Linked DNA regions of Homo sapiens: regions 1 and 2 are each linked to region 3. Evidence: fine-mapped expression QTL. A gene starts in region 3. Each other region holds a variant in brackets. All regions are shown on one strand. Distances are between the middles of the regions. Region 1 overlaps CCDC7 (coiled-coil domain containing 7). Region 2 holds the start of ITGB1-DT (ITGB1 divergent transcript). Region 3 holds the start of ITGB1 (integrin subunit beta 1).

The links. PIP is the estimated chance that this variant, and not a neighbour inherited with it, causes the effect.
Region 1: its variant is fine-mapped to the expression of ITGB1 in whole blood (TOPMed, PIP 0.95).
Region 2: its variant is fine-mapped to the expression of ITGB1 in whole blood (TOPMed, PIP above 0.99).

Annotation. Positions count from the first base shown.
Region 1 is chr10:32,634,602-32,637,367 of GRCh38, forward strand. CCDC7 (coiled-coil domain containing 7) reads left to right here. Exons shown (of 44, transcript NM_001395015.1): 21 at 456-557. Among named protein-coding and RNA genes, the nearest start is that of CCDC7, 190 kb to the left of the region's middle. The variant C/T (reference allele first, on the strand shown) is at 1,187.
Region 2 is chr10:32,981,700-32,984,465 of GRCh38, forward strand. It overlaps ITGB1-DT (ITGB1 divergent transcript), which reads left to right and starts at 852. Exons shown (of 3, transcript NR_184020.1): 1 at 852-986. The variant T/TGTG (reference allele first, on the strand shown) is at 1,581.
Region 3 is chr10:32,956,873-32,959,638 of GRCh38, forward strand. ITGB1 (integrin subunit beta 1) reads right to left here and starts at 1,358. Exons shown (of 16, transcript NM_002211.4): 1 at 1,273-1,358. RefSeq lists silencers at 56-217, 611-1,060, 1,131-1,710 and an enhancer at 1,881-1,930.

The DNA.
Region 1 (2,766 bases), 320 kb before region 3:
GATCAGGCTGGTCTCGAACTCCTGACCTCGTGATCCACCCACCTTGGCCTCCCAAAGTGCTGGGATTACAGGTGTGAGCCACTGCACTTGGCCCTTCACACTATTTTAAGTTAACTCATCAGAGGTCTTTTTTCTTTGCATCATGAATATTTGAACATATAATTTGTAGAAATTTTATACTTTGACCTAAATGTGAATACTGCAAAATAACTAGAGAACTAAAGTGAAAGCTTTAATACCTTTTGATTGGTATTTGCATAGTCAGTGACTACCATGTAACAAGATTGCCTCCACACATGAGAATTTTCTGCTTCGCATCCACGGTCTATTTTAACGAATACCTCACTGCTGTAACTTCCTAGTCCTATTCCATTAATTTTACACAAATGAGAGGAAGTATTGCTGATTACTTGACATATACAGAAGTTTTATCATAGATCTGTTTTTCTGTTCAGAGACTCTTACAACCCCACAATTGCCTGAGGACATGGTTTTAGTTTCAAGAATCCAATCTGAAACTAAAAATCTTAAAGCTACCAGAAATGAGAGTTTTCATTGTAAGTAGTAAGTTTAAAATGTTATAAAATTATTTTCAATTATATTAAACAGCTTTTTTTATGGTTCATGAATATATCTACAACTTTTTTTGTAATTATTTTGTGTATACTTCTAGATCTATACTGGTGTCTCTATAATTACTGAATTAGATGTGTTAATTTTTCCACTATGATTGTGAATTTCCTTGTTCCTTTTTATAATAATGTCAGGTTTTACTTTATATCTTATGACATTTTATTATTAATGTACATATAAATTTAAAATTAACAATCTTACTGGAAGAAATAAACTTTTTCCTAATGAAGGGACCTGCTTTATCATTTTTATAGCTTTTGTTTGTTTGCCTTAAAAACTATCATGTCTCCCCATAATCCCAGCACTTTGGGAGGTAAAGGTGAGTGGATCTCTTGAAGCCAGGAATTCAAGACCAGCCTGGGCAATGAAGTGAGACCCTCATTGCCACAAAAACAAAACAAAACAAAACCCAAAACAAACAAACAAACAAAACTATCACATCTGCTATTAATGTAAATCTACCAACTTTCTTCTGATTGGTATTTGCATGATACATTTTATATTTCATCCTGGTAACTTAACATTCCTCTTTGTGTTTTTTTTTTCTGTATCT[C/T]TTGCATGAAGCTCATAGTTGTATATTTTTCAAATTCAGTCTAATATTTTTGTCTTTTAATTAGCTCTCCTAAACACATTTAGTCTTATTATTGATAATTTCTATGTTTAAGTATACCATTTCTTTGTCCTTCCTATTTTATCTGCCTGGTAAGTTTCTTTTACTCTTCTTTATGCCCTATTACTTAATATCATTACATATTTTTTCCTTGGACAAATGATACCAAATATTTTAAACTTTATTCTAAAGACACCTCTGTGTATCTAAAAAGTAGCATAAAGCTTATACTTCAACTAGTTGGTCTCTACTAATAGTTTATTACCACAAAGTGTGATTTGCTTATATCATGTGAAGTGAGACAGTATTATTGAGTCATTAGCATATATTGCAAGTATAGTACTTAACACCACAGATCTGGTTTTCATTTAGTTCTTTTTTTTATTTTTTATTTTTTATTATACTTTAAGATTTAGGGTACCTGTGCACAACGTGCAGGTTTGTTACATATGTATACATGTGCCATGTTTGTGTGCTGCACCCATTAACTCCTCATTTAACATTAGGTATATTTGCTAATGCTATCCCTCCCCCTACCCCCACACCACAACAGTCTCCATTGTGTGATGTTCCCCTTCCTGTGTCCATGTGTTCTCACTGTTCAATTCCCACCTATGAGTGAGAACATGCGGTGTTTGGTTTTTTGTCCTTGCGATAGTTTGCTGAGAATGATGGTTTCCAGCTTCATCCATGTCCCTATAAAGGACATGAACTCATCCTTTTTTATGGCTGCATAGTATTCCATGATGTATATGTGCCACATTTTCTTAACCCAGTCTATCATTGTTGGACATTTGGGTTGGTTCCAAGTCTTTGCTATTGTGAATAGTGCCGCAATAAACATATGTGTGCATGTGTCTTTATAGGAGCATGTTTTATAATCCTTTGGGTATATACCCAGTAATGGGATGGCTGGGTCAAATGGTATTTCTAGTTCCAGATCCCTGAAGAATCGCCACACAGACTTCCACAATGGTTTAACTAGTTTACAGTCCCACCAACAGTGTAAAAGTGTTGCTATTTCTCCACATCCTCTCCAGCACCTGTTGTTTCCTGACTTTTTAATGATCGCCATTCTAACTGGTGTGAGATGGTATCTCACTGTGGTTTTGATTTGCATTTCTCTGATGGCCAGTGATGATGAGCATTTTTTCATGTGTCTGTTGGCTGCATAAATGTCTTCTTTTGAGAAGTGTTTGTTCATATCTTTCGCCCACTTTTTGATGGGGTTGTTTGTTTTTTTCTTGTGAATTTGTTTGAGTTCATTGTAGATTCTGGATATTAGCCCTTTGTCAGATGAGTAGATTGCAAAAGTTTTCTCCCATTCTGTAGGCTGCCTGTTCACTCTGATGGTAGTTTCTTTTGCTGTGCAGAAGCTCTTTAGTTTAATTAGATCCTATTTGTCAATTTTGGCTTTTGTTGCCATTGCTTTTGGTGTTTTAGACATGAAGTCCTTGCCCATGCCTATGTCCTGAATGGTATTGCCTAGGTTTTCTTCTAGGGTTTTTATGGTTTTAGGTCTA
Region 2 (2,766 bases), 25 kb after region 3:
TTTACACTTAAATTCCCATTTGTAAGGGGGATATTCTATCCCTCAACTTCCAAAGTGAACAAAGTCCTAATTCGGAGCCCATTGCTCTGCGGCCTCTCATGCCCTGGTAGGGCCAGGACCCCAGGGAATAGGATCTGGCCGCTGGGTCAGCAATGTTTGAAGGCTCCCATTTTATTTGCAGCCACAGCCAGCCAAGTTCACTGTGAGCAGCACTTCCTGCCTTGTTTGTGAGCTGCAGGCTGCATCAGGAAATAAAGTTTGTAAAATTACATTCTCTGGCTAAGCCTAGCCCTTTGTTGAAATAGCCACATTATCTATGACGACAGTGACAAGGCCAAAGGTGAGAAAATCTACATGAATTATTCTCTCAAAAGGATTCAGATAAGGGCAGAAAAGACCAGATGTTTCCTTTCTAAGTGACAAAGGGCTTGAGAATAAAAGGTAGGAAGAACAACTTGAAAGATTCACTTGGGCTTCTTTCTCACTACCTAAGAATATTACTAAGTTCCCTAAAAGCATTGCACCCCTGGATTCTAGTCTGTTTTATTTTTTTGAGATAGGGTCTTGCTCTGTCTCCTAGGCTGGAGTGCAGTGGCATGATCACAGCACACTGCTGCCTCGAACTCCTAGGTTCAAGTGATCCTCTCACCTTGGCCTCCCAAAATTCTGGGGGTACAAGCATGAGTCACCGTGCCTGGCCATCCCTGGATTCTAGATCTGGGCCTGGCACATAATAGATATTCAGTAAATATTAAACAGATGTATGAATCAGACAGTCCTGGTCGTCTACGTATCTTTATCTACTGAGAGTTTTGTGGGTTTTTTTGTTTATTTTTTTGAGACAGAATCTCACTCTGTAGTCACCCAGGCTGGAATGCAGTGGTGCGATCTTGGCTCACTGCAACCTCCACCTCCCAGATGCAAGCGATTCTTGTGCCTCAGCCTCCCGAGTAGCTGGGATTAAAGGCATGCGCCACCACGCCCAGGTAATTTTTGTATTTTTATTACAGACAGGGTTTTGCCATGTTGGTCAGACTGGTCTCGAACTCCTGGCCTTAAGTGATCTGCCTACTGAGAGCTAATTCAAGAAAAACTACTAAATTATAAGCTCCTGAAGGCAGAGATTGGGTCCTTATAGGACCTGGCAAAATTATCAGCAAAGGTTTCTTGAAATGAATTTGCCAAGAGCTCTTCTAGACAGGGGGAAAGTGAGGAGACATAAAAGCTAATAATAAAGATTGGAAAAGGACATATGTATGTATTGGACAAATCTAGCATTTCTTGAAAATTCATGTATTGATTCACTGATGACATATAAGCAAAGTTAAAGTCATCTTCAACCGTAAATGTTAATACTTATTCAGTAAGAGAAACAGCATGACTCAAGTCAATGGATTTAGGGACATTAATTTGGCAGTTTTAGGGCAAAATTCTAAGTGGTTGATGATAGTGAAAAATTGAATTGCCTTAAATGCCTAACAGTAGGGAACTTGTTAAATAAACTTGATGCTTTCATGCAATTATGTTTTCAGATAAAATCATGTTTTCAAAAACTATATATGGACATGGAGAAATTTAAA[T/TGTG]TTAAGTCAAAAAGATATGGTGGCAGAAACTGTTGACTTCCTACCCACACCACTTCCCTTCTCCTTCCTAACACCTCTTAATTTTGGTGGGCTTTCTATTCTCTGCACAGCAGTGTGCTTCAGGGGAGGCAGTCACCAGCCCTGCCCTGGGGAGTGAATCATCAGTGAGTGGTGAATGTGAATTCCCCTGGCTAGTGATCTTCTGAGTCCGGGGAGTATAATTCATTCCAGGCCAGTGAGGTGGATGAGAGTGGAGAGGCTTCTGGAAAAGCTTTCCTCTATCTTTAAAAGCAGGAAACAAAGTCATGCTTCCATTAAATGTTAGGAAAAGCTTCCCTCTATCTTTAAAAGCAGGAAACAAAGTCATGCTTCCATTAAATGTTAGACTCTACATGTGATAAAGCCACCATGCAGCCAGGCCTGAGGCTGAGCTGACAGGCCTGGGAATGTGGAAAAATGCAAAGGCCCCAGCTGATTGATCTGCTGATCTGTTGACTTATTAGCCTTGGAGGCTGCAGGTCAGTGACCAAGAGCCAGTTCAACAAACACCCACCCACTGCAAATCAGTTTCCACTACGGCTGATTTGCTGGATTTACTCGCTTCTTTTAACTATTTAGATATTGTTGACTGATTTTCATTTTGTCTTCATAAAAGCATTTAAGGAATATTAAAATTGTCTCAATTCTAGTTCCTTGTTGAGTAACTGAAGACTGACTTTTGATGAGTTGTCCAGCTAAATAACTCATCTTATTTCCAAACTTATTATGTGAGCTAATTTTTTCTTATAGTTTAAACCAATTGCATATTGAGTCCAGGTTTTCTCTTAATTACCACTAGAAGTATACTAATGGGATACATGTAGAATAAGAGAGAGAGAGAAATTGGGGGGAGGGGAGAGAGAGAAAGAATGAATTATTTCTGGGTTGTAGGATTGGGAATATAGCTGATTTATGCCTTTACTGTATATTCATCTTTGTATTTCTCTATTTTCTAAATTTTCTGTAATGAACATATATTGCTATTATGAACAAAGTGGAAAGTTGTTTGTTTTGAGACAGAGTCTTGCTCTGTTGCCCAGGCTGGAGTGCTGTTGCTCAACCTGGACTCACTGCAACCTCCACCTCCCTGGTTCAAGTGATTCTCATGCCTTAGCCTCCTGAGTAGCTGGGATTACGTGCGTGCCAC
Region 3 (2,766 bases):
CTCTCAAGCTAAGTTTTTTACATTTTGCATTTGATTTTCAGAACTATAGTTAGGAAGGTTACTTGTGGTTTAAACGCGGACTCTGGAACTAGACCCCATGCCTTCTCCAGGAGCTCCTGATGACCACAGGCAACTTACTTTTGCTCCCTGTGCCTCAGTTTCTTCACTCGGAAAATGGGAATCGAAACAGTACCAATCTCATTAGAGCGGTTCCAGAATTAAATAATACATGTAAAATGCCTAGAGCTAAACTTGGCCCTCACTGTCATTATTATAAAAATGAATTATTAATGTAGATATTACTGTTCCTATTTCACAGATGAGGAAACGGAAGCTTAGAGAATGCAACTTACTAATGATCATACCAATGAGTGCAAAGTTTTGGACTCAAAAGCACGAATTTGATTAAATAAAAGTTACTTAGAGAGTAGGAGTCTCATAAATCCAATTTATGAAGCCTAAGAAATGACACGCGGTAAAATGATACTAGACACAGGCCGGGCTCTCAGGCTCGCGGACCGGGTCTGAGCACAAGCTGGCCATGGCCATGCGTCCTGGTCCCGGGGTGCCCGGCAGGGACCGGCGACTCTTGACGTTTATAAACACGGGGAAGTGGACTGCACTGCCGCCACCGCACCCCCGGTCCCCAGCGGCTCCACTAAGCCAACTTCTACCCGGCTCCCGCCGCCCCCGCCCGCGGCGCTGGCCCCAGGGCCGCCTCCTGGCAGCCGGAGGAGACCAGTCCCCGTCGCGGGCGCCGACGGCTGGCTCGACGCTGCTCCAAGGACAGCAGCTCGCGAGGGAGCGAGAGACAAAGGCACCGGACCCGTCCAGGGGAGCGCCGAGTCCCAAACGCCGAGCCCCGGGTGGCCTCGCTGGCTCCCACCTGCGCTTGCCCAGCCCGGCGGGAGACCGCAGGTGTCAGGGGCCGTTCGGGCCCGGTCCCCCGCAGCTCCGGCAGCCCCGACGTGACAGCGCCCAGGCCGGCGACCCTCACGTTCGGAACGCGGCTGGGCTGGCTCTGCGCCCGGGGGCTGCCAGCGCCGGGGACCCGAGGCGGGTGGCGGCGTGCGGACTTCCTCCTGGACTAGCCTGGAATCCTGCCCCAGCCCCCAACCGCTGGCGGCCGCCCCCGCCCCCGCCCCCGCCCCCACCCCCACGCCCGGCACAAAGGTCCCGGCGCGGCCCGGCCGGCGGCTTTAAGTGCTGCCGCGCACAGGAGACCGGAGGCCGCGGCCCGCGCTCCCACACCCGAGGCCCGCCGGCCCCTACCTTTTCCGCGCGGCGTCCGGGGCCCGGCGCGGTGGGCTCGGGCCTGCTGTTCCGCGACTCCCGCTGGGCCTCTCCCGCGGGCTGGCGGGGCCTCCCGGGTGTCGGGCGCGGCGGGTGGCGGCGGCTCCTCCTCCTCAGGGGCGGGAGGAGGGGACTCGGCGGCCCAGAGCCGCCCCCCGGCAGGAAACCAGCCGCGGCCCCGCCTCCTCTGCGCGTCTGATCCCGCTCCCGAGGCCGCCGCCGCCCTCTCCCTCCGGAAACGCATTCCTCTCCCGCCGCGTCAGCCCGGCCCGGGGCTAGGAGGAGGCGGAGGATGGGGCAGGAAGTGCGACCGGGACAAAGGAACCGGCTGCGCGGGAGCGCGCCTGAGGGAGGCCGCGGGGGGCAGGGCCGGGACTGCGTTGAGACAGTCGCCGTGCCTCAGTTTCCTCCTCTGCGAAGGGCGGGAGGAGTCGGACGCGCCCTAGAGCCCCGCGCGTTCCTGGTGTAGCCTGCTGGGCCCGTGTTCTTTAAGTTCCTCTTCCTCGGAGCCGCGCGTTCGACCCTCGCTCCCGTTTGTCCACTGATGTCCCGTTTCGAGCCCGGGAGATCCTGCATCTCGGAAGCCCCCTGAGTCCCGAGGCAAATCGGGACCGTGAGCCCCCCTACCCTGCAGGGCTCCATGGGGCCAAAAACCACGTGGTCCTTCTGGAAGGGAACTGGCTAAGCCAGGACTGCTTTTCTGGAGTGATAATGTGCTTGCCTGTGTCTAAGAGAAAGGTGAAGAATTGGGAAACCCATGGGTGTCACGAAGGGTGGTGAGACTGGGGAACGTTTTAGAAAACCTGGTGAGTTGCGTCCTGCTTTTGATAGATTTATCTGGAGGTACCTTTATGGGGAACAGGGATGAGAAGGAAAAGTTTCTTCCTAAGGAGTACAGTTTCTGTTTCACCTCTTAAAAAAAAAAAATTTGGAGATTGGGGCTGGAAACAACGTTTGAAAGAGAAGGAAACATTCATTATGAGAATGGCTGAACGCATGTCGATTCGATGATTGAAGTCTGTACCAGCCAAAATCATACTGAAACCCAGTAATTTAGTATATGCTACTGGCAAGCTGCTATCCTGGTAGCAGAAAATGCTGTGGGTTCCGCTTGGTGAGCTGCAGCACCCTGTTGGGAAAAGAGCTCAAAAATTACCAGATTTATGAAATAGAAGTGTTTCTCTTGCAGGAGATTAGGGACTGGAATGCCCATTTGGCTGCTGCCAATCAATATAAGAGAAAATGAAGCGATCACATCTAAGAAAATTTGCTCATTACTTACCAGCAAAATCAAAACTTGATTAGCCAATCTGAAGACCTCTAGGAAATGAGCACTATTTTTCCCACTTAATGGATGTTCAAGCTTAAGAGGCTAAATGATGTTCCTATATTAATATCTCAATGGTCAAACTGCCATTAGAACTCAACATTCTTGAATTTTAAAGGTATCGGTTTTACCATTGTTCAGAATTC